7 linked regions of the Homo sapiens genome follow. The protein of the gene in region 3 purifies or fractionates together with the protein of the main gene of each other region. This does not show direct contact. Each region holds a gene or a part of one and is shown on either strand. Other genes may lie near its edges. The genes, in order: OAT, PRMT2, DIAPH2, EPS8L1, ALDH9A1, TXNDC12 and PCCA.

What was found.
Region 1: the proteins of DIAPH2 (region 3) and OAT fractionate together in Homo sapiens (co-fractionation; one large-scale study listed by BioGRID). This does not show direct contact.
Region 2: the proteins of DIAPH2 (region 3) and PRMT2 purify together in Homo sapiens (co-immunoprecipitation; one large-scale study listed by IntAct). This does not show direct contact.
Region 4: the proteins of DIAPH2 (region 3) and EPS8L1 fractionate together in Homo sapiens (co-fractionation; one large-scale study listed by BioGRID). This does not show direct contact.
Region 5: the proteins of DIAPH2 (region 3) and ALDH9A1 fractionate together in Homo sapiens (co-fractionation; one large-scale study listed by BioGRID). This does not show direct contact.
Region 6: the proteins of DIAPH2 (region 3) and TXNDC12 fractionate together in Homo sapiens (co-fractionation; one large-scale study listed by BioGRID). This does not show direct contact.
Region 7: the proteins of DIAPH2 (region 3) and PCCA fractionate together in Homo sapiens (co-fractionation; one large-scale study listed by BioGRID). This does not show direct contact.

What each region holds. Positions count from the first base shown.
Region 1 is NC_000010.11:124,412,278-124,416,807, reverse strand, and holds part of OAT (ornithine aminotransferase, mitochondrial isoform 1 precursor), read left to right. Parts: intron 1-1,735; exon of another isoform or gene 1,736-1,855; intron 1,856-2,375; exon of another isoform or gene 2,376-2,690; intron 2,691-4,530. UniProt on the Homo sapiens protein: Catalyzes the reversible interconversion of L-ornithine and 2-oxoglutarate to L-glutamate semialdehyde and L-glutamate.
Region 2 is NC_000021.9:46,655,613-46,660,142, reverse strand, and holds part of PRMT2 (protein arginine N-methyltransferase 2), read right to left. Parts: intron 1,399-4,530; coding exon 1,223-1,398; coding exon of another isoform or gene 1,219-1,222; exon of another isoform or gene 1-1,218. UniProt on the Homo sapiens protein: Arginine methyltransferase that methylates the guanidino nitrogens of arginyl residues in proteins such as STAT3, FBL, histone H4. Acts as a coactivator (with NCOA2) of the androgen receptor (AR)-mediated transactivation.
Region 3 is NC_000023.11:96,914,591-96,919,120, reverse strand, and holds part of DIAPH2 (protein diaphanous homolog 2), read right to left. Parts: intron 2,684-4,530; coding exon 2,547-2,683; intron 613-2,546; coding exon 504-612; intron 1-503. UniProt on the Homo sapiens protein: Could be involved in oogenesis. Involved in the regulation of endosome dynamics.
Region 4 is NC_000019.10:55,085,597-55,089,181, forward strand, and holds the end of EPS8L1 (epidermal growth factor receptor kinase substrate 8-like protein 1), read left to right. Parts: intron 1-122; coding exon of another isoform or gene 123-162; exon of another isoform or gene 163-244; coding exon 245-377; intron 378-464; coding exon 465-596; intron 597-795; coding exon 796-922; intron 923-1,117; coding exon 1,118-1,292; intron 1,293-1,706; coding exon 1,707-1,839; intron 1,840-1,931; coding exon 1,932-2,018; 3' UTR 2,019-2,327; downstream 2,328-3,585. UniProt on the Homo sapiens protein: Stimulates guanine exchange activity of SOS1. May play a role in membrane ruffling and remodeling of the actin cytoskeleton.
Region 5 is NC_000001.11:165,677,364-165,681,893, forward strand, and holds part of ALDH9A1 (4-trimethylaminobutyraldehyde dehydrogenase isoform 1 precursor), read right to left. Parts: intron 3,321-4,530; coding exon 3,124-3,320; intron 2,220-3,123; coding exon 2,079-2,219; intron 1-2,078. UniProt on the Homo sapiens protein: Converts gamma-trimethylaminobutyraldehyde into gamma-butyrobetaine with high efficiency (in vitro). Can catalyze the irreversible oxidation of a broad range of aldehydes to the corresponding acids in an NAD-dependent reaction, but with low efficiency.
Region 6 is NC_000001.11:52,044,942-52,049,471, forward strand, and holds part of TXNDC12 (thioredoxin domain-containing protein 12 precursor), read right to left. Parts: intron 1-4,530. UniProt on the Homo sapiens protein: Protein-disulfide reductase of the endoplasmic reticulum that promotes disulfide bond formation in client proteins through its thiol-disulfide oxidase activity.
Region 7 is NC_000013.11:100,302,035-100,306,564, reverse strand, and holds part of PCCA (propionyl-CoA carboxylase alpha chain, mitochondrial isoform a precursor), read right to left. Parts: intron 3,642-4,530; coding exon 3,567-3,641; intron 815-3,566; exon of another isoform or gene 731-814; intron 1-730. UniProt on the Homo sapiens protein: This is one of the 2 subunits of the biotin-dependent propionyl-CoA carboxylase (PCC), a mitochondrial enzyme involved in the catabolism of odd chain fatty acids, branched-chain amino acids isoleucine, threonine, methionine, and valine and other metabolites.

The sequences.
Region 1 (4,530 bases), on a different chromosome or scaffold from region 3:
GAACAAATTTACTCCTCAAGTTGAATATTTTAAGTGGCTTTTGGACAACTTTACGCCGACTATTCTTTTAGAGTAAGAAAATAGTTTTTAAGAGTATAGGCTAAATTAACTTCAAAATGCAGCCTTTTGTGGAAATTCTACTGTAGGTATGTTCTAATGTAGATGGATGGGCTAGATGGAGGGAGTAATGGTAGCCTGAAGGACCCTGTTAATTACGTGGATAAAACCTTCAGTGTTAGAATTCTAGCTTGCCAAGAGCAATTTGTTCTCATTTCCAGGACCTGAGTATGGGCGTCAGGTAGATGCATGATAGCTGCCTGGAACACATTATTTTGACCTTTGAAGGCCATTAGATCTAATGAAGTAAACTCTTGATGAAGAGATGAGTTATTCTAGATGAGGTCAGAGAGTGAACACCCCCTCTTAGAGTTAGACTCAACCTGGTCAGGGATAGGTGATCCCATGGTCTTGATCACTTGCTACCTTGACTCCCTCAGGAGTCCTAAGTAAGACTGACCTCTTTATCTGATAAAGGCCCACAGGATGCCCAACCTGGGCTAGGTTCTAGGAATGCAAAGTGAATTTTACTGTTTTTTAAAGGAGCTTAGAGTATAGACTTATAGGCATAAAAACAAGTGGCCTGCAGTGTTAGGACCCGTTACAAGTCTGCACAGTCCCTGGGAGTCTCTAGGAGGGACTTAAATAGTAAATTCTATAGGGGAGGGTGAAAAAAAGCTAATATGGATGCTAATTATGCATAGAAAAAATAACCAAATGTTAATGGTTATCATGCAAGTGTAAAATTGCTGGTAATTTTCTTGTCTGTGTTTTCTAATTTTTTATCAACTGAAAAATGGTGTGTGTGTGTCTTTTTAAACAGTTTTAAAAATAAATCATGGCACTGTTGATTCTGATATTTCAGAAACTGGCTAGTTTTAAGGGCAAAAGGGAACTGAGTGGCCATTTTGTGCTGGATTTGGCACAGTAACATTAACCCATTTCATCCTCAGTGACACTTCAACCTCCTTTTACAAATGGGGAGACTGAAGCTCAGAAAGATTGACAGAATCACCCAGAGTTACTCTTCAGAACCACAGACAGAATTTAAAATCCCGGTCTCCAAACTCGGGATTTTCCGCTTGATTCTCCCGGTTTTGAAACCTTTTTGGAAGAGGCTGTTATTGATGTTGGCTATTTTTAAGTCCATCTTAATTCTGCTCTAAGATTTCTCATACAGTGCCAAGCACAGTAACTTGAACACAGAAGGTTCTTTAATAGAAATGCGTTTACAGGATTTTGATACATCATGGCTCATCCAGTTTCTGACCTTTCCCAGTTGAATTAAATATCCAGAATTCATCTTAAAAACCTTAAGAATAGCTGACTCAGGGGTGTGTGCCTGTAGTCCCACCTCTTCCTGAGGCTGAGGCAGAAGGATCCCTTGAGCCCAGGTGTTCGAGGCCAACCTGGGCAACATAGCTGAGACTCCATCTGTAAGTGAAAAGAAACAAAAACCTTAAGAATGAGTATTAGTAATGTTTTGAATGATATTATTTTGTCCCCAGTTATTCTTTAATAAAACTGCCTAAACTTAACAGGTAAATGAATTTTTCATCCCATTTCTGTTGGAAATTAGCTGTGCAGATAACTTTTATATAAAATAAGAATGTTGAATTTAGATAATCTCTGATATTCCTTTTTTTTTTTTTTTTTTTTTTTTTTTTTTTTTTTTTAGCGCTTTGTAGCCCAGGCTGGAGTGCTGGTGGCACAGATCGTGGCTCACTGCAGCCCAGAACTCAGGGCTCAAGAGATCTTTCCACCTTAGTCTTAGTCTCCTAAGTACCAGATACTACAGGTACGCATCGCCACACCTGGCTAATATTCATATTTTTTATAGAGATGGGGTCTCCCTATGTTGCCCAGGTTGATCTTTAACTCCTGGGCTCAAGTGATCTGCCTTGGCCTCCCAAAGCGCTGGGATTATAGGCGTGAGCCACCTTGCCTGGCCCTAGAAAGTTGTTACGGTTTAGAGCACCACTAAGTATTGCCTGAGTGTTTTACTGCTAATTTGATAGGCAAAAATTAATGTTCTAATTTTTTAGTTGATCAAACAATTTATTCATACTGAGTAAAGCATAAAGAGTCCAAGAAAGAAATCATACATGAGTGTTTTAGACTTAGCAGTAGTATTTTGGGGAAGTTACATATAGTACAGTTAGACATTTTTGCTAGCAGCTACCTCCAGTTGGATGATTCTTACATCACTTTTGTTTTGATTGTTGGTACCCACCCCTTTGAGATAAAGTCTGATGAAAGTTATGGACCTTCTTCTTGGAAAAATATACGTCTGCATGTAATTCTGCATTTTATTTCAGGAGATTTTGGACTCTCTGCAGACTGTCCCTGGATCTTGGGTTAAAAATCTGTATTCTAGACTGAACCGTGGGAAGAAAAAATAGTCAGTGAGTCTTTGGCAAACCGGAGTACTGGATTTTGTTTAGCAATTGCAAATTCCTGAACATACTGGATTTACTGGGTAGTGCCAAGTTTAAAGGGAAGTAAGCCAAACTCCAAGTATTATGTTTTGCTAATTTGGCAGCTCGAATCAAGAGTGGCTGTGAGATTATACATGGTTTGACTTGTCATTGGTAGACTTCTGTTGAAACATGAATTAACTAGTCTTTTAGAAAGTAAGTATAGATGGAATAAGTATGCCTAGTTTTTGGCAACTTTCTCCTAATCATGAATTTATCTTTAAGCTTTTTTTTTTTTTTTCCTTCCAGAGGTGATTCCTATGCACATGCTCTAATTTCCTTTTAATTATTAGTTTCTTTCATAGCTTAGTTTTTACTTCATGGCTTATCAGGATGCTTAATGGTAAATTGGGTACAAAGAGGTGTGTGAAGCCTTGTGGAGGGGCTAGTTTTAGGGCTGGGGGTGACTGGGGAGAGTAGCTATGGCTCTGACTTATGTGATGGGGCGGCAGGGTAAACACCAGCCTGCTCAGTGATGTTTAGACTTTAACACTCATACAAGTAACGGATTGTAGTTTGTAGTTTGACTCTCTCTAGTTTCTCAGTTACCTTTTGCTAACAATAGCTTTTTCGTTTGTTTGTTTGTTTTTTGAGACGGAGTTTCACTCTTGTTGCTCAGGCTGGAGTGCAATGCGCAGTCTTGGCTCACTGCAGCCTCGTCCTCCCAAGTTCAAGCGATTCTCCTGCCTTAGCCTCCTGAGTCGCTGGGATTACAGGCATGCACCACCACGCCTGGCTAATTTTGTATTTTCAGTAGAGACGGGGTTTCTCCATGTTGGTCAGGCTGGTCTCGAACTCCCGATTCAGGTGATCGCCTGCCTCTGCCACCCAAAGTGCTGGGATTATAGGCATGAGTCACCGCACCTGGTCAACAATATCTTTTATGCTACAATTTTTCAGGATAAGTTTTGTAGAAACAACCATCCTAGCAGAATAGATTGTTTTGTTTGGGAATCTCATATATGTGTGTGTGTGTGTGTGTGTGTGTGTGTGTGTGTGTGTGTGTATGTATTTATGTATGTATGTATATGTTGGTCTAATTCAACTTGCTGTGAACACTTTAAAGCTATTATAAGTTAACATTTTTTTCCTAGTCTTTTTGCCTTTCACCTTTGTTTATGATAAATTTGACCTACAGAAGTTTTAGATATTTGTGGCTAAATAAAAGATTTTAGGCTGGGCACAGTGGCTCACACCTTTAATTCGAAAACTTTGGGAGGCCGTGGTGGGCGGACTGCTTGAGCCCAGAGGGATGGACAGTTCCTCTGTCTCCTGCCCCATGCCTAGTCTCTGGCAGTCTTCTCTGATTTGGTCTCCCTGCCTCTGGTCTCTGCCCTACAGTTGTAGCTGTCTCATAGCATTGTGCCTGATGGTATCGGACTGTGGTAGGTGCTTAACAAATACTTAGTGTTTAGCAGGTACTCAGTCAACACACAGTGCATTAGCTCTGGAAAGAGTCTTACTCTTATTGATTGGTTGGTTGATTGATTGCCTGATTGACAGGGTATCACTCTGTTGCCCAGGCTGGCCTCAAACTCTTGGGCTCAAGTGATCCTCCCGCCTCAGCCTCCTGAGCAGCTGGGGGCTACAGGCACAAACCACCACACCTGACTCAAGATTCTCACTCTTTTTTTTTCTTTTATAGAGACTATGTTGCCTAGGCTGGTCTTTAACTCCTCGGCTCAAGCGATCCTCCCATCTTGGCCTCCCAAGGTGCTGGAATTACAGATGTGAGCTATCACGCCTGGCCATTTTTTTTTTCTTGAGACTGGGCCTTTCTTTGTCTCCCAGGTTGGAGTACAGTGGCACAATCTCAGCTCACTGCAGCCTCAACTTCCGGGCTCAAGCAATCCTCCCACCTCAGTCTCCTGAGTAGCTGGGACTGCAGATGCATACCACTACACCCAGCTAATTTTTCAATTTTTTTTAGTGATGGAGTCTTGCTCTGTTGCCCAGGCTGGTCTCAAACTCCTGGGCTCACGTGATCCTTTGACCT
Region 2 (4,530 bases), on a different chromosome or scaffold from region 3:
GCAAATAAAAGTGAATGTTTTAATAAAGATTCCACTATATTTACACATTTATTTTTCTGATAAAAAATTACAAATTTAAAAATTGGAAACTATGGACAAGTATAAAGAAAAGCTTAAATTCCCCATATGCCTGTCTTAGCATTGTGATATACTTATTTTTATCCCCCAGACATATTTATATAAATTTATTTATGCAAGCAAACATCCATTCTGTATACACGGTTTATTCTGCCAAGCTTTACTGTCTCTTAAACCCTTTCTAAATATCATTACATATCCCTAAAAACCTATGGTTTCTTTTTTAACAGACACACAGCAGTGCTCCACCAGATGGATATACAGCAATTCAATCACGTTCCTCTGGACGGCCACTGGCTTCCAGTGCCGGGAGGAACACTCAGGTGGGAGGCTCTGGCAGTGACTGGGGTGGGCAGCCTGATGCCAACCTCTAAGGCCCTGGCAGCCACACCTCCCTGCCACTGCCAGGCAAGCCTGGGCTACTATTTTAATTTACTCTTTGCTTGTCTGGTAGGGAAAACAGCATGTATTTTAATTCGCATTTTAACTACTAACAACATTATAATTTTTCATATATTTATTGGTAATTTTATTTATTTTTTGCGGTTTGCCTGTTCACATGATTGGGCTGCAATTCCATCTGGCTAGTCATCTCTTTCTAATTGATTCCAAGACCTGACAGCACGTGATTTCTCTAATTACTTGTTTGCTTTTACAATCGTGTTTTTGCTGATTTCTGCCACATAGACTGCCAGATTCTATCTAGCCCAGGGTCCATTCCATCCATTGTTGCTGCTCATTTCTCCACCTAAGATGGTGCACACAGGCCCCCATGGATGTCTGTCGCTGACGCTGATTCCATGCAGAATTAAGTTTTCACGTATGGCGTGAGAGAACAAGGGCTAATCAACTGCTCCAGAATAATTTGCTGACTTGGCCCTCACTCCCTCCTAATCGTAATGCCACCTTTTTCACATACGAAAATTTTTGTTCCTTGCATTCTACCCTGCTCTGCCCATCTGTCTTGTTATAGCACCATACTGCTTTAATTACTCCAATGCTACAACAGATTGTCCTATCTGGGTGCACAGGTACCCTCATTTATCCAACCGTCGTATGGGATCTCCCAGGGCCTTGGCCCACCTGCAGACTGTGGACCAGGAGGCCCCACAAGACGGTGCCAGTCCCAGCTGTGGACACTTACTTCAGAGCGCTGAGGTTGAACTCGTACGCGTTGTCCCAGAAGAGCACCTTGCTACGATAATCCTTATCAGCACTGCAGGGCACAAGGTGCAACGCAGCCATGGTGGGCCAAATGACCCCGTCCTCCTTCAGCCAGGCATCCCGGGCATACAGGATGGACTCGATCATGAACTCAAACTGCATAGGAGTGAAAGACACACAGGAGACACATCACAGGCCCCGCGGCTGCACAGGCCTCTCACCACCACATTCGTAACACTAGTCTGACAGTTCTACAGTTTTAGCCTCAAGAATATTCCTGCCTAGGCCAGTGTACCATGCAAGAGAACATCTCGAGGGTTTATTTTATGCCCACACGTCACTGATGCATCTCACAGCCTGGGTTTAAGTCACATAATTTCCCATTAGAACTATGAACTGGAGCAGAGCTAAAAGCAAGGACAAATCTTCACTCTTGTCCCATCTCAGTCACGGAAGAGCTCGTAGCTACCAGATTTTGAAAGAGCCCTGAAGTGTTGCCGGGTCCCAACTGTTACATAAAATATATTTGGTCCGTAGCATTCTCAGAATTTTCACACCCTTTAAGTGGACTGAAATCACTGCTTAAGAAACCGAAAGCCACGCAGGCATGCCCTGGCCATTCACGGGTCCTTTGGTCCACCTTGCATCCCTCAGAAGGTCCCAAGTCAAGGGAAGCACATCACATCTATGACTGAGGAAGTGGGGACCCAACGCCCTCAAAGGCCAGGCTTTCTGTCTGAACCAGAACTTGCTTCAAACACAGAAAGGAGTAGAGGGAGCACCAGCGAGGTGGGGCCAAGGCCTGTGGCCCCTGCAAACCACCCAGGGAGCCTGCACTTCATCCTGTAGTTGATGAGAAACAACAGAAGTGTTTTGCTTCCTTAAATAATCTCAAGCTGCTTTTATTACAGAAGTAATACATGTTTTGTACGGAAAATGTAGAAAACTTAGAAAAGCTCAAACAAACATAAAAATCACATATTAACCCAGTACCTAGAAGGAACCACTGTTATCACTCTGCAGTTTACCTTCAAGTATTTTTCTACACACGCACACAAAAAATATATACATCTTATTTTTCAATCTTATTTTTTCAGTTATGTAGTGAAACAGCTTTTCTGGCGTACAGCCTACGAACTTGAGCGCTTGTGTGGATTTTGTCCTCACAACCACAGCCAGCATACACACAGCTCTGCCACCCAAAACACTCTTCACCCTTTTCTCTGGTGGTCATGCCCTCCCCGACCCCAGCCTCTCCAGCCACCGATCTGGTCTCCATCCCCATGGTCTTGTGTCTTTTTGAGAATATCATACAAATGGAACCAAACAGTACATAACCTTTCAAGACAAGTTTCTTTCACTCACTGTACCGTTTCTGGGGTTCCTCCAAATTACCTGTTTCAATAACTGGCTCCTCTTCACTGCTCAGTGGTATTCCACTGTGTGGACGCACCAGTTTATCCTTAAGGATTATCCAGATGAAGGACACTTGGGTTGTTTCCAGGTTTTGTTTTTTTTTTTTTTGCAATTATAAAGAGAGCTAGTATAATCATTCACATACAGGTTTTTGTGTGAACACAGCTTGCATATCTCTGGGTTGAACACACAGGAGAGGGACTCCTGGGCATAAGGTGAGTGCACATACAAGTCTATAAGAAAGCACCCACCTGTTTCCACAGTGGCATGTTCCCTCCAGCAATGCATGACTTTCAGCTGTTCCTCATCCTCGATGACAGTTGGTATTACTATCAGATTTTTTTTTTATTGTAGTCATTTTTCAATGGGTGTAAGTGATATCTCACTGTGGCTTTAATGTGCATTTCCCTGATGGCTATGCTGAACATCTTTTCATGTGTGTATTTGATATCTGTATATCCACTTTGGTAAAGTGTCTGTTCAAGTATTTTGCCCATTTTCAATTGGCTTGTTTTCTTCCTGTTGAGTTTTGAGATTTCTCTGTATATTCAGAACACACACTGGATATGTTCTTTGCAATATTTTCTCCTAATCTTAGCTTGTCTTTTTTATTCTCTTAGCATCATCCTTTTGCAGAGCAGTCATTTTTAGTTTTGATGAAATTCAATTTATCAACATTTTCTGCTATGGATCACGCTTTTAGAGTAAAAAGTCTTTGCCCAAGTCCAGGTGATGAAGATTTTCTATGATTTTTTCAAGGAGGTTTATAGTTTTACATTTCACACACTTAGATCTATGATCAATTTTAAGTTCAGCTGTGTATGAGATGTGAGGTTGAGGTGTTGTTTTTTAGATATGGATGACAACTATTCCAGTAACATTTGCTGAAAAGACTGTCTTTTCTCCATTAAATTGATTTTTGTACCTTTGTTAAAAAAAACCCATTGACCATATTTGTAGAAATCTCTCGTCTCCATTCCATTGACTTACGTGTCTGTCCCTTCACCACATTGTCCTGATTACTGTAGCTTCAAAATCAAGTAGTATAGTTCCTCCAACTTTACCCTTCTTTTAAAAAATTCTATCAGCTACTCTAGTTCTCTTAGTCCATTTTTGTGTTGCCAAAAAGGAATATCTGAGGCTGGGTAATTTATAAAGAAATGAGGTTTATTTGGCTCATGGTTCTGCTGGTTGGGAAAGTTCAGGATTGGGCATCCAGTGAGGGCTTCAGGCTATTTCCCCTCACGGTGGAAAGCAAAGGGGAGCTGGCACGTGCAGAGACCACAGGGTGGGAGCAGAGGCAAGTGGGCGTGCCAGGCTCTTTTTCACAACCAGCTCTTGTTGGGACCTGAAAGAGCTAGAACTCACTTATCTACCCACGAGGAAGGGCATTCATCTATTCATGAGGGATCCACACCCATGACCCAAACACCTCCCACTAGGCCCCACCTCCCAACACCACCACACTGAGGATCAAATTTCAACATGAGATTTGGTGGGGACAAACCATAGCACTAGTTCCTTTACATTCCATATACATTTCATAATGAGCTTATCTATAAGAACAAATCCTGCTTGGATTCTAATTGGAATTTTATTAAGTCTACAGATCAATTTAAAAAGAACATACGTCTTTACTAGGTTGAGCCTTCTTATCTCTCCATTTATTTAGGTTTTCTGGGGTTTCTTTCATTATCATCTCATCATTTTCAGCATCCAGATCACATTTTGTTAGATTTCTAAGCCTTTCATATTTTTGAAGCTACTGTGATATTCTTTAATTTCTAATTGTACATTGCTAAGATATAAAAATGACTTCTGTATGATGACCTTGCACTCTGTGATCTTGTTAAACTCACTTACTAGTTTTAG
Region 3 (4,530 bases):
TTTCTAAAGGAGGCATTTAGTAAGTTGTGTCTACACAGGGCTATCAAATTAACGCTAACCTAAGAATTGCAATTCAATCCCTTCTATTCTGGTGAGTCACACCTTTGAATATTGTCTGAATGGCACAAAGAGAGATGTGTTTAATTGTCTTACATTTCTACAAGCCCACCGACTTCACTAACACTTGTTAGGATAATGGCATTGGCTGAACTGCTTGCCCTTTTACCTTAGTTACTGCTGAGGCTTCAATTTCCCTGGTTTATTACATTAATTACTAAATTCTTGTCTAAATATCAATGACAGCCATAACTGCCACATTTATAATAATTCAAAAGTATTTTTCCTAATTTTAAACAAATTGCAATTCTCACAAACTAGCAACAGAAAAAATTTTAGTTTTACATTCCATACTACTTAAATGCCAGCTAAAATGGAGTTGATGTCATACAAAATGAGTACTCTAAATATAACTCTAGAAGCAATTTAAGACAAAACTAACTCACCTGTAATTGCAAGGCTTCCTGATTTTCTAAACCTTCCACAATTGGTGAAAATCGTTCCCTGTTATTTCTTTCTGCTGCTGTTGTTATAGCCCCTAAAAGTTTATCTAGACTGTAGAGAAAAAAGAAGAAACAGAAATGAGAAATACTTCTTATACAGACACTATGAGCACCGGTCCTTTCAGTATTCCCTGTTTTCTTTCTGGTATTTGATGTTTATATATACCATTAGAATTTTTAAAAATTATCATTTGCTTTTTTGATGGAAATTGTATGTTTTCAAATATGTATACATACTGGAATGGCTAAATCAAGCTAATTAACATATATTGCCTCGCCTACTTACATTTTTTTGTGGTACGAACAATTAAAGTCTACATACACTCTTAGGAAATTTCGAGTATACAACACACTGTTATTAACTACAGTCACTATCACATAAAATAGATTTCTTGAACTGATTCCTCCAGTCTAACTGAAAGACCATTACAATATAGGAATTGTGTTCCTGTCCGTATATTTCTTTAAGGCAAATATTGATAGCTCTAAATAATTTTAGGGCATCAAAAGGAAAATTCGATTTTAAAAATCTTAAGGAAAGTAACTTTTCTGGGTGACATTAAAAAAAGAATACTTAAGTGATAAACATTAAAATTTAAATTTTCAGGTTTTGATATTTCATGTGTTAACATTAATATCACTTAAACATAATATGACACCTATAATTGTTAACAGTTTATTGGAGCATAAACAGATTGTAATTTTATAATAAAGTTCTGGAAAGAGTGATTATTTTTTAAAGAATTTTTTTAATCAACATTTTTTGACAATGGAAAAAGAAAAAAGACTCTAAAAAGGAAAGCCCAGGTGATTAAAGAAGAATGTATAATTATCTAGCACAAGAAACTTATTAACCTGACCAAAAATATTGGTATCTCCACACAATGCCTAAAACAAATTAATCTCTATATAGTATACTACTCTTATCAAATTATATCTGAAATTATAATTAAATCATAACAGTTATACTGGACTACATTGTATTTTATGAATATTGAAAATCTAAGTGATTAAAAAATATTTCTTACACATGTATAAACTGACTTTTAAAAAATAAAATCCTAAGGATCCTTGCTTTTACATATGTTATCTCATTCTCAGTTTGTTATCATTGAGGTGAGACTTAATATGATAATATTTTTGTTTAGTGTTTGTCTTTTGGTTTCTGAGGACAGTAGCTAACACTAAGCAACATCTCATTTTACTCTAACAGTTATGAGAAAGTCAACATATTCCAACATCCTTAAATCTTTGCATAGTCCTGTTCTGACTCAAATTGACATTATTACTGTCACGCAAAGTGTTCCAAGGAAATATTTTGGTTCGGGTCCTTAGCAGATATTTGATTCTTTATCACAAGGGTTCATTACAAACTAGACTTATTAATGTCATCAAATCTGAAAGTTTGCTTCTGATTCAATATTATTTCCATAAGAAGATGTGATCAAATGCATGTTCAGCAACAACTTGCTGCATTTGGTGGCACATATACACTTTGAATAATTATCAACAACCGTTTTTTTCTAACAGGTGGGTTTATTTCACTTTACAAATAATTTTCATTTACCATGGCATATAAAGTAAAATACTATTATAAGATAATGTAAAATAAAGGCATCTATTCAAATTGTGTGATATGCAGCACAGTATTTGTGTATGTATGTGTGTGTATTTGCCAAAATAACTCTCTGATTTTTGTCCACTTTCTAATGATTGCTGTACCTCCAGCAAAACAAAATTCTGCTCAATCACTTTGAATCCAACTTTCAAGAATTTCCCACTAGGATTTTATCTGTTTAAACTGAGTTTCTATAATGTCAACAAAGAAGCCAAAATATAAACAGGCAAGATAAAAATTTCAATCAAAAATTATCTAAAATACTGTTTTCATGAAAGTTATCCAAAGAAAGAGAACAAAAGTAGGACTTATTAATTTCTTAAGTGTCATTTTCCATGCAGCAAATATAATAATATAGCAATACTTACATGTTCTCTTCTCCAACAATGCAAATAGCAGAAAGTATTTTTACTATTTCAGTCATCATGTTGGGTTGTTTGGGGTCAATTGCTCTTGCCAATAGTAAAAGACTTCTTTCATCTCCTAGAATCCTTTGTAATCCAAACTAAAAAAAAAAAAAAAAAACCTTCATTCAGAATGTCTATGGAATATATCTTTAATTTAAAAAAGCAACGTACAATGATCTTCCAAAAACCCATACCCCCACAATGAGGTTCTACCTAATTATATGAATATTCTTCAAATGCAGTTATCTGTCTTTGTTTTTTATATGAAATCACTGCATCTTGGAGTTGTTGCTCCTTGATCAGATATATCTCCATTAGCCTGCCCTAAAAATTCCATAAATTTGGAGAAATATGGGAACAATCAGTATTTCTTCAACAAAGAATAACATATAAAGCGCATACTGATATGATTTTCTAAAGTAAGATTCTACTTATGTCACTGGGTCTCCCTGGAGATGTCTGGAATTCGTGGTTAAATTGTCCAATATGTTTGTATGAAAAATTAAGGTGAAGAAAAAGAGAAATTTTTTTTAAAAGGCTCTTTTGAATACTATATGCCAGTATAAGCCTCAGTATGGATATTCCCATGCCTTCTCTCTCTTATCCTCCCTGATTCAGACAGCTGTGCTGCACTACAAAAGCTGTGAACCTAAAGAAATGGCACCTGGGTTTTATTAAGTGTCACAAGTCAACTAAGGAGAGAAAACACCATTTTCATTTATTTTCTAAGCATGAATATGTGTGTGCATGCGTGTGCATGCACGCACTTAATAAATAAGTAAAGAAATTCTAATGAAAGTCTAAAACTTGAGTTTTCATTACATTAAGAAAGCAATATATTATTTTATCTTTGTCCCACAAAGTATTTTTCAGATTTCTTATAAAATATTTTTGCTTCATTTTACAGTCTAATGGTGAAATTGGATATTTCATCGGAGCAAAATTTCCATTTCAGCTAAACTTCAGTTAATTACCAACCATATGAATAGTTCCATCAGCCCTAATTTAATTTCTAAAAGAACTCCGAGTGGCAGATGGGGAACATAGCTAAAGCTCTTAAATGTGAGTTTATCACAGGTCATAATAAATAGGAAAATATATGGAGATAAGACCAAAAAAAAAAAGAAAATGCAAGAAACAAGTCTTGAAAGAAGCAACAAAAACAAAATAGATAAGTATGTATAAAGGTGGCCAGTAGATGATTAAAAGTAATGAATATTAGTGAAAAACACATTTGCAAAACTGAGAGACAATGACCACGCAATTACCAAACTTAATAGCTTTATGAGTCATTGAGACTGAGAGTGAAATCATTAGGTTTTAAAAATTTTACTTAATGTTTATAAGTAGTTTTTAATATATAGAGACACATCAAAAATAAAAAAGAAGACATGAAAAATATATCTGGAAAATCATTAATCCAAACATCAGAGCAATATTATAGTACTGGAAGTTAAGAAACAATGGGTTGCTTTTTATGATCCTATTGTTACATGTATTGGATAAAAGAAAGGAGTTTTTGAAGTAGGTAATCTAAACTCCATGGGGCCAAAAAATTTGATGTGTAAGTCATTTTGGATAAAAGCTTAATTCCTTGATCTGGACAATTTATTCCAACATGAAGTGAAAAGATCACTGCATATTTTCTATTCTGAAGGCATATTTTATGCCTATTGTTTCACATGTCTATAATTCAAAAGATCCATTAATCCATGCTCTGAGCACCTATGTGCAAGACATTAACGTGGCCTAACTAAAAACATCAATTTCGAATAATCTAAGTCAAATCATTATGCTTTCCGAAACTGCCAAACTCTTAAGAAACTAAATGTTGACAAATCAAAGTATGTTCTGTTAAAAAAAAAAAGGGCTCTATAAGAATCTTACTATTATGACTCTCTCTAGTGACTGTCCTGATTAAAATTACTTAGCATCCTGAAAAGCC
Region 4 (3,585 bases), on a different chromosome or scaffold from region 3:
CTCTGTAAAATGGAATCGATGGTGGGATAGTACCCACTACATATGCCTACAGCACAATGCCAAGCAACGGAGGGAGCAAATATATTCAGTCTGTTATTCTTGTTTCAAATTTCTATTAACAGTATTAACCCGGCCCCTGCTGTGCCCCCAGCTTGGCTCTAACCCCAGCTCACACCAGCACCCTGCAGCCCAGAGCAATGGGGCTGGCTGCCTCCTTATCTCCAACCCTCCCGCTTCTCCTCAGTCACCGAGACTTGGAGCCAGAATCTGAGCCTCAGCTGGAGTCAGAGACAGCAGGAAAATGGGTCCTGTGTAATTATGACTTCCAGGCCCGCAACAGCAGTGAGCTGTCGGTCAAGCAGCGGGACGTACTGGAGGTTAGAGGAGCGGGAGGCTGAGGGGCAGGAATTAGCCAGCCCTAGCTGCAGACAGGCTCTGAACCCTCTGTTCTTTACCACACCCAGGTCCTGGATGACAGTCGTAAGTGGTGGAAGGTTCGGGACCCAGCGGGGCAGGAGGGATATGTGCCCTACAACATCCTGACACCCTACCCCGGACCCCGGCTGCACCACAGCCAAAGCCCTGCCCGCAGCCTGGTGAGCCAGCGCAGACGCTGGGATCTTGAGGGTGGAGAGGCTGGGACCAGATCCTGGGAACAAGGGGCGTGGGGATCAGCTGTCAAGAGTGCTGGAGCAGGTGGTGACTGGGGGTTCAGAAATGCATCTCCAGAAAGGGGAGAGGCTGGGACTCTGAGTCCTCTCCCTAACCCAGGTACTCTCCTCTCCTTCCTTTCAGAACAGCACTCCTCCTCCACCACCAGCCCCAGCCCCGGCCCCACCTCCAGCTCTGGCTCGGCCCCGCTGGGACAGGCCCCGCTGGGACAGCTGCGATAGCCTCAACGGCTTGGACCCCAGCGAGAAGGGTGAGTGGTGGGGACGCCGGCTGCGGGGAGCGGTCCTTATCCTTGCTTTCCAGGCAGAGAAACGGGGGCTCAGAAAGAGCAAAGGGACTCCCGTCCCATTCTGGGGACGCTGGAGCGCCCCCCCGCCCCGCCCTCTGGCCCCAGGACCCCTCGCCCTGAGCCCGCACTCCCTACCTCCCGGTTTCCCGCCTGCAGAGAAATTCTCCCAGATGCTCATCGTCAACGAGGAACTGCAGGCGCGCCTGGCCCAGGGCCGCTCGGGACCGAGCCGCGCAGTCCCAGGGCCCCGCGCCCCGGAACCGCAGCTCAGCCCGGGCTCGGACGCCTCCGAGGTCCGCGCCTGGCTGCAGGCCAAGGGCTTTAGCTCCGGGTGAGTGGGGCCGGGGCCCTCTCGGCGCGGGTTGATACGGACGCTGGGAGCGGAGCGTTCCGATCGGCCGGGAGTCGGGGGGCGGCAGTCGTGGAGACCACAGGGAGCCGGGATTAGCCCGAAGTGAGGGTCTGTCTGGTAGCAACACCCAATGGCAGGCTGTGATTGCCATGTTTTTTCAGACTCCGACTGGATTCCTTAGGGAAATCCCGTACCCTTTGAAAGCAGGATGCGGCCACGCCCCCCGGGTGGCAACATTGTGATTGGTGGGTGGGGTTCAGGAGGTGTCGGGCCTGCCCCCGCTAGAGCTAGAATGCTGTTCTGATTGGACCATCGCCGGGTGGGCGTGACATGATTGTCCGGGCTGGGGCATCCGCCGACCGGCCTGACCGCGCCCGGGCTGCCCTCGCTCAGGACCGTGGACGCGCTGGGTGTGCTGACCGGGGCGCAGCTTTTCTCGCTGCAGAAGGAGGAGCTGCGGGCGGTGAGCCCCGAGGAGGGGGCACGTGTGTACAGCCAGGTCACCGTGCAGCGCTCGCTGCTGGAGGTGAGCCGGACCGCTGGTCCCTGGGTCTGGGTAGGGTTGGGATGACGAGGGCTCGGACGCCAGGACAAAGCGATTTCCACCCCGCCCTCCAGGACAAAGAGAAAGTGTCAGAGCTGGAGGCAGTGATGGAGAAGCAAAAGAAGAAGGTGGAAGGCGAGGTGGAAATGGAGGTCATTTGACCTGCCAGGCGCCCTTCGCAAAGAGTGACGAGGCCCCGTGGGAGAACGGACTCCTCAGACTCTCCCCAATAGCGGAAGTCGATCTTCTGAAGGATGGCCAATCTGCTCCGGCCCTGGTCTTCCCCCATCCCGGTGGACAGACTTAACGATCCTTGCTGCAGTCCCTCCGGAGAGGATCTGGACTGGCTGGGAGTGGGGAGGGCGTGGAGACAGTCTACGGAAAGCGCTAGCAGACCCCCGAGAGGGTGCAGTGGAGCCCTGAGCATTGTAATATGCGGCCCAGCCTATAAACAGCCTCCGTGCTTAGCAGATGGTGTGCCAACTGCTGTCCTCTACCCGGCTACCAGGGGGCTCAGAAACCTGCCCCTCGACCCAGTCACAGCCTCATGGAACCTGGAAAATGTTCCACCCTCTTTGGTTTCTCTCTGAACCCTCCTTTCCATCCCCAGGGTCCCAAACCAGGCTCCCTCCTGACCTCCTAGCCAGCCTAGTCCAGCTTGCCCCACCTTCACGTTTCCCTGGCTCGCGGCTGCTGGGCATGAGGCTTTGTGTCTCCCTTCCCGCCTCACCAACGTTCTCACTTCATTCCTTCCTGCGTCCTGGCCCTGCCCTTCTCCAAACGCTCCCAAGCGTTCAACCTCTGAGGTTTGCACCTGCTGTCTCTGCTGGCTGAAACGGCCATTCCCTGCCTGGCGAACTCCTGTTCAGCCTCCCTGGCCCAGCTCAAACACTCACTGTGGGGAAGCCTGCCCTCATCCCCGAAGCTAGTTTCCCAGCATCCACTTCTCCATTTTGTCCCCCACCTCCTGCCACGGCCCTACCAGGTAGAACTGGCTGCCTCCCAAGCATGCCACAGCTTTCTGGCCACTCTTTGTTCTGGGAGATGGCAGCCAACTGAAAACTTCCTAATCCCTCAAGAACTAGCTCCTTCTCCCTCTGGCAAGCCCTGTAACTTTCTTTTCCCCATTATCCAGGTGGCTGGTAAGGTCTGCTTTTCTCTGGATCCCACTGTTTTCCAGACTGGATATTCTCTGCCTTTGGGAAGAATGGCCCTTTCTCTTTCTCCCCTGGCTCTGCCTTCCCCAGATTACTGAGGGCCTCTGGGCCTCTGGGCCTCAAGCCTCTCCCGGAGTTGTTCCAACCTGGGCCACCAGATGGCGCCCTCCAAGATGGGAAAGGATCAGAGAGACGCCCCCCCACCCCCACCCCGCCCCCCGCCCTTGGGGCAGGCAGGAGTTCTCAGTCCCCACTTTGCCACCTCCTGCCTGGTTCCTTCTGGTTCCTTCCTTCCTCTTTGGATCTCCAAGAGTCCTTCTCCTATCTGCCCCGTCCCTAGATCCTATTCACATACTTCCCTTGGCTCCCTATGGCTCACCGGATAAAACCAGGCCCCAGCTTGGCAGTCACAGGTTGCCCACTCGGCTCACCAGCTTCTCCGACCACGGGGCTCAGCTTCCCTCCTCCTGCTGCCAAGCTTGGTTCATGTGGTTGCTTCTGCCCAGAATACTCTCAGCCCCTCTACCACTTGCCCGGGGCCCCACCCCTCATTCTTAGTAGGGGAATAGGA
Region 5 (4,530 bases), on a different chromosome or scaffold from region 3:
TTAATAATAAACAGATAAACAATAATGGAACCAGGCCTCCTTCAGAGAAATGGCTGGTTCCAGAGCACAGCCAGGGGAAGTATGAGTCTGGAACACTTTGCTATGCCAGAAAGTAATGAAGTATTCAAAGAATAATGAGGGCATATCAAAAGGTCACGGAAAGGGATTCCCACCAGCCATCTGCAATTATTTTAGCATCAAAATAAATAATGAGGCTGGGTACAATGGCTCATGCCTGTAATCCCAGCACTTTGGGAGGCCAAGGCAGGTGTATCATGAGGTCAGGAGATCCAGACCATCCTGGCTAACATGGTAAAACCTCATCTCTACTAAAAACACAAAAAATTAGCCAGGCGTGGTGGCGGGTGCCTGTAGTCTCAGCTACTTGGGAGGCTGAGGCAGAAGAATGGCATGAACCCAGGAGACAGAGCTTGCAGTGAGCCGAGATCGCACCACTGTACTCCAGCCTGGGCGACAGAGCAAGACTCTGTCTCAAAAAAAAAAAAAAAAAAAAAATTAGCCAGCCGTGGTGGCACACACCTGTAGTCCCAGCTATTTGGGAGGCTGAAACAGGAGAATCACTTGAACCCGAACCCAGGTGGTGGAGGTTGCAGTGAGCTGAGATCGTGCCACTGCACTCCAGCCTGGGTGACAGAGTGAGACTCCGTCTCAATAAAAAAATAAAATAAAGGCCGGGTACAGTGGCTCACACTTGTAATCCCAGCACTTTGGGAGGCCAACGTGGGTGGATTGTGAAGTCAGGAGTTTGAGACCAGCCTGGCCAACACAGTGAAACTCTGTCTCTACTAAAAATACAAAAATTAGCTGGGCATGGTGGCGGGCACCTGTAATCCCAGCTACTCAGGAGGCTGAGGCGGGGGAATCGCTTAAACCTGGGAGGCAGAGGATGCAGTGAGCCGAGATCGTGCCACTGCACTACCGTCTGGGGGACAGAGCTAGACTCCGTCTCAAAAAATAAGTAAGTAAATAAATAAAAATAAAAAATAAATAAATAATGATAGTATTGGATTATAACACATAGAATGAAATAAGAATCCATGGGTCCATACTGATATAAATAAATGAATGGAAAACAAACAGGGGTGAAGGGCAAGTTCTTTCTTACAGTAGAAGGTGAACAAATATAGAAGAAATGATGGAATTGGAAAATCACCATTTGCAACCCCATAATAAAAATTGTTTTCAGCAAGAATCGTCAGTGGTGATAGAAGTATTTACTGCATGAAAGTTTGATGAGGAACAGGATAGTCTCAAAATACCTCCTACAAGATCTTATTAACCACAAAGTAAAAAACAGTAACTTTACAGTGAGGACTTACCTTAAAGCAAGTGATCAAAGTTAAATCACCACTGAGTAGGATATGACATCATGTTTGTGGTATTTTTGCCAAAAATTCATAATATGAATCTAACAGAAAACATCAGACAGACCCAAACTAAGGAACATTCTACAAAATGAATGGCCTGTTCTCCCAAAATGTCAACGTCCTGAAAGACAAGAATAACTGAAGAACTGTTCTCAGCTAAAGGAGATTAAAGACAAGACAACTAAAGGCAATGCATCATCCTTGACTGGATCCTAGACCGGAAAAAAAACCATTTTTGTTCTATTTTACTATGAGGACATTAGTCAAACAAGTGGCAAAATTTGAATAAGGGCTATAGATTGAGTAAGGGCTATAGATTCAGTAACAGTACTATATCAATGTTAATTTTTTAATTTTACTAAGTGTACCGTGCTTATGTAAAAGAATGCACTTGTTTTTAGGAACTTTATATTTAGAGGTTAGGGGCCTTATGTCTACAATTTACTCTCAAGGTTCAGAAAAACTTAATATGCCTACGTATGTACAGGCAGATAAAGAAGATGATAAAGTGAATCTGTTAAAATGTTAATATTTGAGAAATCTGGTTCAAAGGTACATGGGAATTCTTTGTACTATTTGTGCAACTTTTCTGTAAGTCTGAAAGTATTGTAAAACAAAAAGCTTTAAAACACACTGTTGGATGAGGGGGTAGAGATTCCTTTTACACCTCTTCCAGGGACAGGTACATACCTGGCCTTGTGTGAGGAAGTTGGCCATCAGCGCCCCCTTTACAGCATTGTTCATATCACAGTCTGAGAAGATGATGAGTGGAGATTTGCCTCCAAGTTCCAAGGTAACAGGTTTGATTCCTTTAGCTGACATCTCCATGATCTTGCAGAACAAGGACAAGGTATTCAGAACTTTAACACAAATTATATTGCATGCTAAGTCAACTAGGCCCTGAACCTACAAAATCATCTTGAACTGTTTGTGACCTGTAGCCTTATTCTTGTCAATATCCTTTGCCTTTTGGCTATTAAAATATTCTATTCCAGAAAACTGAAGAGAATCCACAGAGTTGCACTGACATTAGAAGAGGGAGTTCATTTAAAAAATATTGTCCCAGCCTGGGCAACATAGCAAGACCCTATCTCTACAGAAAAATAAGAAACTTAGCCAGGCACAGTGGCACATGACTGTAGTCTCAGCTTCTTAGGAGGCTGAAGCAGGAGGACTGCCTGAGCCCAGGAGTTGAAGGCTGCAGTAAGCTGTGACTACACCACTATAATCCAGCCTGGGCAACAGGGTGAGACCCTGTCTCAAAAAAATAAAAATAAAAAATATTGTCAATTCACAGGATTGTCATAGCCAGAAATTCTTTTGTGTTATTGTTACTGTGTTTAAGGCTGACAGAGTTCAGAACACAAATTAATGTCAAAATAATGGATCTGAAATAGCCTGAGTAAAAATCCTTTCTTCTATACAAGAAATTAAGTCACTAAACAATACAAGTGGCAGCCCAGGCCCCTGTCCACTAAGACACATCCTCTCCTTAGGCTGGGGCTGTTAATTTCCACCCCTACCTGGCCTAACACAAATCACCCCATGTGTACTCCCTTTCCCCCTTCATACTTTTACAGGAAATTTCACACCTCTGCCTAATAAAATCTCCTTCCCATTCCCAATTCAGGCTAGGTAAAATCAAAAGAGAAGCCTCCAAAATATACTCTGGGTAGGACCGGATTTGCCACATCCAAATGCCATGTGTGTTGACCAATACTGGTTTTGTCCTCACCTTCATGCCAGTGGGCACACTTCCAGTGAAGGAGACTTTGGCCACATCGGGATGCTGACACAGAAACTGGCCTGTGGCAGCCCCTCCCTGCACCACATTGAAGAGCCCAGGAGGTACACCAGCCTCACTGTAGATTTCAGCCAGTAGCAATGCAGAAACAGGTGTAAAGGGAGAAGGTTTAAAGACCATGGCATTACCTGCATAAACCCAAGACACAAACATAAAAAGACTTTCTAAGACCAGTGATCCCCTGAAAACAGGACTAGAGGACAATTCAAAAATGATTCCAATTGTTTCCTCTTCCCCAACCAAATCCTACATCAAAAATGTTATTAATAACCATATTAGTTTGTTTTCATGCTGCTGATAAAGACATACCCGAAACTGGGAACAGAAAGAGGCTTAATTGGATTTACAGTTCCACATGGCTAGGGAGGCCTCAGAATCATGGCGGGAGGTGAAAGTCACTTCTTACATTGGCGGCAGGAGAAAAATGAAGCAGCAGCAAAAGCGGAAACCCCTGATAAACCCATCAGATCTCATGAGACTTATTCACTATCAGGAGAATAGCATGAGAAAGACCAGCCCCCATGATTCAATTACCTCCCCCTGGGTCCCTCCCACAACACATGGGAATTCTGGGTGATACAATTCAAGTTGAGATTTGGGTGGGGACACAGCCAAACCATATCAATAAGTAAACAACTCTTGTCCTTTTCATCTTGGTTTCTCTCATTAAACAGATCCCAAACCCTACAGTTGCCCAGTCTCACATTTGCATATCTAGGCCTTTTCACATATATTATCTCATTTAACACTTTCAACAGCAGTATGAAGTAGGTATCATTAGCTCCATTTTATAAAAGTTGACATTGAAGACCAGAATGGTTCACTTGATGAGAGTCCCCAAAGCTAGTGACTTAATTCTGGTGACTATTAAAGCTAGTGACTATTTTTCCTCTTTCACAGCTGTATCTCAAAGAGAAATAGGCTAAAACAAGAACATGCAATGGCAACAGGACAAAAGCTGCATTTCAATATAATGTCCTAACAGTAATGCTTTCTAACATTACAATTTTTTCTAAGATAAAATTAGTCTTCTTTCCTCAAAGATTCTTCTCTTTAAATACTGTAAGAAAACTATTTTATGTCAATCAGCCAAAGCTCCTCTTTGATAAGAAGCTTATCAAAGCCTTGCTTATCATTTCTCTTAAGACCCAAATGAAGAAAGGAGTTTATCTTCTGCTTCGTAAATGAAGTCAAACTCCTAAGTGCTAACTCCTACCTTAAAATTCTTGTCCAGAAAGGAAGAGAACTTATAAGTAGCACAAATCTAATTCAATTTAATAAGAAAAAATTAAATTTCTTTTCATATACAAAATTAAATAAATAAAACCTGAGAATATC
Region 6 (4,530 bases), on a different chromosome or scaffold from region 3:
TCCAGCCTGGGTGACAGAGCAAGACTCTGTCTCAAAAAAAAAAAAAGAAAGTCAAATCTGTGAAGTCATCAAACAGAACTTCTAGAAATTAAAAATACAGTTTTGTTGAAATACAAAGTGAATGAATATGCAGTGATAAAAGGAAAGGAGTAATCAAGCCACGAAAAGACATTGAAGAACCTTAAACATATACTAAGTGGAAAGAGCAATTTGAAAAGGCTATATACTACATAATTCCAATTACATGACATTGGAAAAAGCAAAATTATGGAGATAGTAACAGATCAGTGGTTAACAGGGATTCTGGGGGAGAGAGATGAATAAGTGGAGCTCAGGATATTTTTGTAACAGTGAAACTATTCTATATGAAACTGTAATGGTGGATACATACTGTTAATGGCCTCAATTGTGTCCCCCACCCCACTCCAAAGTTCATATCTTAAAGTCTTTAAAGAGGTAGCTGAGGTAAAATGAGGTCATTGCGGTGGGCCCTTATCCTTATGAGAAGAGGAGATTAGGACACAGACAAACTTAAAGGGAAGATCATGTGAAGACATAGAAGACAGCCATCCACAAGAAGAAACCAACCCTACCAAGACCTTCATATTGGACTTCTAGCCTCCAGAACTGTAAGAAAATAAACTTCTATTGTTTAAGCCGGTTAGTCTGTGTATTTGTTATGGCAGTCCTAGCAAACGAATACATATGTTATTATACATTTGTCAAAACACATAGAATGTACAACACCAAGAATGAACCCGAATGTAAACTAGGGACTTTGGTTAATAATAATGTATCAATATTGGTTCGTCAATTGTAACAAACTATCTTTCAAAAGTAAGAGCAAAATAGACATTTTTAGATAAGCTGAGTGATTTTTCCATCCTTCCCTCACAGCCCTCAGAAAAAACAATCCTGCTGACACTGTGATTTTGGACTCCTAGCCTCCAGAACTGTGAGACAATAAATTTCTGTTAAGACACAGTTTGGGCTGTGGATGGTGGCTCATGCCTGTAATCCCAGCACTCTGGGAGGCCGAGGTGAGAGGATCATTTGAGCCCAGGAGTTTGAGACTAGCCTGGGCAACATAGTGAGACCCCATCTCTATAAAAAATAGAAAAATTAGCCAGGTGTGGTGGTGCATGCCTATAGTCCTAGCTACTTGGGAGGCAGGGGCAGGAGGATCGATTGAGCCTGTAGTGAGCTGTGATTGCCCCACTGCACTCCAGCCTGGGTGACAGAGCAAGATTCTGTCTCGAAAAAAAAAAAGACACAGTTTGTGGTACTTTCTTACTGTAGCCTTAGCAAACTAATACAGGGGAGCAAGGCAAAAGCAAGGAGACTAATAAAGGGGCTACTACAATAATCCAGGCAAGAGATGATAGTGGACTGGACCAGCTGGGGTGGTAGAGGGGTAAGATACCAATAGGTTCTGGATATATTTCAAAGGCAAAGTTAGCAGGATTTTGCTATGGATATGGGATATGAGAGCAAAAAGAGAAGTCAAGGATCACTCTAAGGTTTTTGGCCTGGACAAGTAGAAGGATGGAGCTGCCATTTACAGTGAGGATGAAAGCATGATTAGAGCATGACCAAGACAGTCCAAGGAGAAAAATTAGATCGAATACATACAACTCTTTCAAAAAATTTTTGACTGGGTGTCGTGGCTCACGCCTGTAATCCCAGCACTTTTGGAGGCCAAGGCAGGCAGATCACTTGAGGTCAGGAGTTCGAGACCAGCCTGGTCTAACCTAACATGGTGAAACCCCATCTCTACTAAAAATACAAAAATTAGGCCAGGCGCGGTGGCTCACGCCTGTAATCCCAGCACTTTGGGAGGCCAAGGCAGGCGGATCACGAGGTCAAGAGATCAAGACCATCCTGGCCAACATGGTGAAACCCCATCTCTACTAAAAAAAAAAAAAATATATATATATATATATATATATATATTAGCCGGGTATGGTGGCACACACCTGTAATTCCAGCTACTCAGGAAGCTGAAGCATGAGAATTGCTTGAACTTGGGAGGCGAAGGTTGCAGTAAGCCAAGATCATGCCACTGCACTCCAGCCTGGGTAACAGAGTGAGACTCTGTCTCTAAAAGAAAAGAATTTTGCTGTACCAGGGACAACTGAAAGCTGATAGAAATGATACAATAAAGATAGGAAAAAGGGGTAATACAACATTAGAAGGGAGAGTCACTGGTAAAATATTGGTGAGTCGGTGAGAGGAGACGGGATTTAGCACTCAAGTAGAGGGATTAGCCTTTGCTAGGAATAATGATGGTTTATCAGGTAACAACAGGAAAGGGAGCATGTATGAACACTAGTGGGTAAATGCAGTAGTGAAAATTTTTGAAAGGCCTCTTCCGATTCCTTCTGTCTTCTGGTAAAGAGGGACTATAATTACTAACTGAGAGCAAGGACTATGGAAGAAGTATTGGAGATTTGAAAAGACAGGAAGAAGTATGAAATAGTCCCCTAGGAGAGAATCAGAGAAAATAAAAAGGATAGCTAAAGGACATATTTCAGGTAGGAAATGATCCCAGAGGAAGGCCTAGATACAAAGAATAGTGAGCAAATAAACCAGCAAACATGTAGATAAATATGTAAATATTGTCTGTATAGCAATTTATAATGCCCGATTTGTAGAGTTAAAAAAGAAAGAGAGAGAGAACTAAGCCAGGCACAATGTGCACCTGTAGTCCCAGCTACTCTGGAGGTTGAGTCAGGAGGATTGCTTGAGCCCCGGAGTTTGAGGCCAGTCTGGGCAACAGGATGAGACTCTATCTCTAAAAAATAAATAACTAAGTTTCAAAAAAAAATTAAAATTAGAACTAAATATGAGACAACTCCTTATAAGTGAAGAGTGGGTGATTGAAATTAAATGTTCTAAAGTCCCTCTTACCACTGGGGGTATAATAGTGTTAGATTTTGTTAAGTATGCAAGTAAAATTTCAAGAGTTACTACTAAAAGAAAAGAACTAGAATGCCAACTTCCAAACTAATAAAGGAGATAAAATAAGAACAAGCAAATATTCAACCCCCAAAGAAAGGGCAAAAAGAAAAAAAAGCACAGAAAAAAACAGTAGAAACTGGATAACAGAAACAAGAGCTGTTCTGTCAATAATCACAACAAATATAAGTGGACTAAACTTGCCAATTAAAGTGAAAAGACAAAAATTGTCAGACTTGGTTTAAGAAAAAAGTACCTCTACGATGCTTATAAAAGCATACCTAGCCAGTTGTGGTGGCTCACACCTATAATCCCAGCATTTTGGGAGGCCAAGGCAGGAGGATCACTTGAGGCTAGAAGTTCGAGGCCAGTCTGGGCAACATAGAGAAACCTCACCTCTACAAAAAAATTTAAAAATTAGCTGGATGCAGTGGCATGTGCCTATAGTCCCAGCTACTCAGGAGGCTGATGTCAGAGGATTGCTTGAGGCCAGGAGTTCGAGGATACAGTGAGCTATGATGGCACCACTGCACTCTAGCTCGGGCAACAGAGGGTGACCCTGTTTCTTTTCTTTAAAAAAAAAAAAAAAAAAGCATGCCTAAAACAGAAGGACTTACAGAAGTCCAATGCCAAACAAGATAGAGTCAAGGAAGCTAGATTAATATAAGGTTAAATAAAATTTCTCAGCCAGGCACAGTGGCTCATGCCTGTAATCCCATTACTTTGGGAGGCTGAGGCAGGCAGATCACTTGAGTTCAGGAGTTCAAGACCAGCCTGGCCAACCCCATCTCTACCAAAAATTTAAAAATTAGCTGGGTGTGGTGGCGCACACCTATAATCCCAGCTATCTGGGAGGCTGAGGTGGGAGAATCGCTTAAACCCAGGAGGCAGGGGTTGCAGTGAGCCAAGATGGGGCCACTGCACTCCAGCCTGAGTGACAGAGTGAGACTCTGTCTCAAAAAAATAATAATTAATTAATTAATTAAAATAAATTCTCCATGTACCTAGGCCACTCAGAAGCTAGGTGTCAAACCTTACAATCACGTAAGGTTATTACTAATAGAGACCTAGAACAGCACTGTAAAGTAGAACTTACTGCAATGAGCTGTTCAATATGGTAGTCACTAGCCACATGTGGCTACAGAACAATTGAAATGTAGACAATCCAGCTGAGCTCAACTTTTACTTTTATTTAACTTTAATAAATTTAAAGAGTCACAACACTAGAGATTTAGTCTAACCCTCTTATTTTACTGAGGCCTAGAAAAGAAGTTATCCAACACTCCAAGGTAGACCACAACCAAAATTTAAGTCTCCTGACTCCTAATTAGCATTCTTTTCTAATACCCCAGTACTTCCCAAGCTGTTCTGCTGCAATATCCCTAGAGTAAGTCTAGAGGTATAACGTGAAAATAGTCCACTGTGGCTGGGCGTGGTGGCTCAAGCCTTTGGGAGGCTGAGGCGGGTGGATCACAAGGTCAGGAGTTTGAGACCAGCCTGATCAACACAGTGAAACCCCGTCTCTACTCTACAAAAATTAGCCAGGCATGGTGGCAGGTGCCTGTAATCCCA
Region 7 (4,530 bases), on a different chromosome or scaffold from region 3:
AGGCTGATTGCTGTTAACCAGCCAACGAGTGAGTTAGTACATCACTGATTCTTGTTTTCATTTCCCAGTTTGATACCAGCAGCAAGGCACGGAGGTTAGCCATGCAAAACTTTAAAAATGAGCAGTTACTGAGGACAGAACATTTATTAAATTATTAGAAAGAAGTTTTGGAATCTGAAGTATTTAAAAGCTAATCAAAATACTTCAGACTGTCAGGCACATCCTAGGGGTCTTGAGGATGGAGGAACTGAATCAAAGCTGCTGGAACAGCAGGACTTTGATGCCCAACATTGTAAAGGGGTGGGAAGAGAAGAGCGGAAGCTCACGTAGCCTTCCACCTGTGGGAAGAAGCCTTCCTAATAAACAGCAGCTCATCTGTCTGCAGCAAGGCAGAAAAAGGTCAACACAGCGGCTGTTAGGCCTTTAATATTTTAATTTAGGCAATTATCAAGGGACCACATGTAGAACCTCTTGTCTAGGATATCCACATGAGGGTATAATGATGGCTTTATTATACGGTGACATCAGAAGACAAGCGATAGTTTCATTTTCTTAAAATTCACACTACTATTATTCTCTTTGTAAGGTTGTAAAAGGAACACTATAACATACCTGAAGGGCTTTTATTTCTGTATTTGCAAGCACAAACAAAAATATAGATATCTGTATTCGTATTCACATTCATATACAAAAATCTTAATTATAAACAAAAATCATTCAGCACACTTACGAAATATACTTGGCTTTCTATTTTCTGAAAACATATTTCAGGACATAAACTGATGTTCTATGAAATTCACAGTGTTGACAAAAACTAGAAAAAAATTAATGGAGCAGCTTTAAAAGCAATAAAATCACAATCTACCTTTTCCCCACATTAAAGAGCCCCAAAATGGCAACTAGTAAACGGGTTACATAACAGAAAATATATCTGTGAGTTTTCATTTTCTTAATTTTAGTACTAAAAAGTGAAAGAGCTAATTTGACCACTATGTCATCTTTAAAACCACAGCATGCTTGCTAATGCTGTGTTTACAAACGAGACTGATACAAGTTCTAAAACTTCTGACTTTAACTACATCCTATCATTTGCTACATAAACTGCTACAAAGCTAGGAAGAACTTAGATGTTCAACCCACAAATAAAATAACATAGACAATAAAGAATATTTATTATGTTCTTCTACAGTTCCTTACTTAAAACTTCAGTTGCCTTGAATAATATCATCCTATAAGGTGTTACCTACAGATCTTAATTAAATATAACTGTCTTTGTTATTTACTAATATTATGATCACAGAAGTTATGTCATCTTAACTTTAAAATACATACGATAAAATCAAGATATATATAAACACGTATCTTTGTATAAGCAAATCAGTATTCCCAATTAAAAACTGTACCACAGTATGAAAACTCTGCTTTATAATTTACTATTTATGCTGCTTTTTCCAAGTAATAATCAGCTATATTTTTATTTCTTAACAACCAATCTGAAGTCAGATCAAGTCTCCATTCCTTCAATGAAAGGCTATACAAATTTGCACTAAAAACTTTAAGAAAAAATTCAAATGAAATCAGAACCAAATTTCTGAGCAGAACAAAACTGTGGTCTGAAAATAACAAATTTACAAAACATGATGATCAAAAATAAAAAAGGAAATCTTCACCTCTGCCATATTAATAAATCTCAGGCTTAATGAAGCATGTGAAAAGTACAAACCATAAGTTAACTCTTAAGTATGCATTCTTGTGACCAAAAAAGGTAAGAGCCAAAAATTGTTTTCTAAGGTAAACTGACTGCTCTAGTTTTAATAAGACAAGGAAGAAAAACAAACAATAACAACCACAACAAAACACCCAAGCACCTCTGTACGAGATTCTCAAACCACTGCTCAGAAACCTCTAGCATAATTAAAATTTCTGTCTTCAGTACCACAGTGGACTCTGTGAAACTATCAGACATCTCCCACCCTTCATTCTCAATTCACCTCTCCCCCTAAGCACAACTCCCAGCCCGCCATGTCTACCTGACAAGTGACAGCCCAATCTGATTAAATGCTTCCAAGGGAGGGGACTCATGGGCCTCCATGACAGGCCAAAAGTGATCACCATGGAGATACATAATTACAGCTGTCAACGCATCTACTGTCCTGCTGACATCAATTTGATTGCTCCCAGCAATAATGATAGACAAAGCTTAGTGTGCACTCTCCTGCACCCAATCACTTTATCTACTCCTTGGTCCATTTAGCTGACATGCAACATTCACACAAGCAAATAACAGCAGTAAGCAGAACATTTAAGGCATTTTAATTGTTTTTTCTTTCTATGGATGGCTCACAACTGCAAATGTTATTACATAAAACTCCTGCTGCAGCATTAATTGAAGAAAGATTTGGTGGGATGAAGACTGTAGGGGGTATAGTTTGTCCATTATCACTTGTACTTTCAACAGGTCTCACGTTTGAAAATTGCAAATTGCAAAAACTTGCGAGGGCAAAATGTTTGACATCCTGTTAGCTATTACAACATGGTGAAAACTTCTAACAACTAGAGTAATCATTATGAATTCTTATTTAATACTTCTTTTGTTTGATTAAAAAAGTGTTTAGATATGTCCCTATGATACTTGTTTTCTCATGTGCTATTTAACGTCACATAATGCCTGTTAAATCTTCACAATTTTTTTTCTGCCTTCTGGCTTTGAACACAGCATGGAGTCTCCAAGCACAGAAAGGGTCAAGTCCCTTTAGAAAGCACATGGGCAAAAACAATTTAAAAAGTGAAATAAATCATATATCCAATAATATCTTCAGATTTAGAATTCTTCCTGTAATCTTTCACCATCTTCATGCCAGTAATCAAAATGAATAATTTGAATATTCACAGATGGTACAGCCTTGTCATCTACTAGCTAACATAATGTCATATATATATATATATATGCACTTATTACCTTGATTAAGAAAAAGGGTATGTCCTTGCTCTTTTTCTGCAACAAAAACTATTTTCAAAATAGCTATTAAATACAGAAGAGCTATGGAATAAAATGGACAGTGGTCACTTTTATTTAACTGATATAAATATTATTACTCTTTAAAGTCCATGAGGTTTAATAGACTGAGGCACACTTTGTTTGCCTTAATTCAATCTCCTTAAATTTCAATTAAGGAGCTGATTTTGTGCTTGAATTTCTTGACAAGTGACTATATAGCAGGGTTGGACTCGATTTATTGAAAAGATTAAATTGTAACACAAAACATCATTTCTCATTCTTAGGATTCACAGCCTTTTTTATTATAATTTTCGAAAGAATTGGGAACACTGTAAGCTATCATTTATATCATCAGATGTCCCCAGGCTTCCCCTGTCCAGTGAATCCTGACTTTCTTGAACACCACAAAATACTGAAAAAAATTTGTTTTCAACACAAAAACCATGATTCCCATGAATTTCACTTGTCCTTCAATTTACACCCTTTGGTGTTGACATGCTTTAACATAAAAGTATGACATAAATCACGATTTTAACCCTTCAGCTGGTATTACAGCTTAATGACTTACACCAGGTAGATGTAACGGTTCTTGGTACTGAGACAATCTCCCAATAGATGGTAAACCAAAAGACTTGTAGGGGTCCTGAAAGTTCAAAGGAAAGGAAGCACAGTCTTTGAAATATAAATCAGCACAAGTAAGGTTAAATATTTACACAATGAAGAACCATTTATAGGTCTATTTTCAACATATGGTATTTACCAAATCACAGATTTCAGAATATTATTGTCTTTTACGCTAGACAACTTAGAATGTACTTAAAAATCAAACAGAACTGTAAGCAGAATTTAGCCTGACCTTGTTCATACTTTATTGAAATTGGTAAAATTCCAACATTTTATAAAACTTCTTAGAATGCCTTGGGCAAAAAATAAAATAACCTAGGCCCTACATCAAAACATACTCAAGTTTAGAACAACAAATGTGGTATACTAAAGATATTTGTTTTTCTTACTTCTCAAAACAGTTCACATATGGTAAAACTTGAGAATTTGGGTTCTTCAAATAAAGACCTGAAAAAAAAAACTTTGCACGCTACTAGATATGCACTTCATTTGTAAATATCTTAGATCATCAGAATAAACAGGTTCAGTGTCATAAGAATGAAAGTAATACTACTTAAAATATGAAAAAAGCAAGAGCAATACAGTCACGCCAAAACATATTTTTGAACTCCTTGAAAAATATTTCAAACCAGCTCTCAGTATTCTTAAACACAGACACTGATTTATTTTTAATCTTGACAGACATTTTTGATGTCGAAAAGTAAAAATAGTACAAATGTTACCTTGCATTCTTGTTTTAGTCATTTGAAAAAAAGCATTTAGAAGTACTGAACTGAGAGTTTATGAGTAAAACCCAAAATTAAAATTATAAATTAAGAGTACATGTTTTACTAAAAGCTTTACAATTTAAATTTTGATTGTTATTTTTATGTAATAATAAAGGAGAAAATTATACAAAAAAAAGGTTG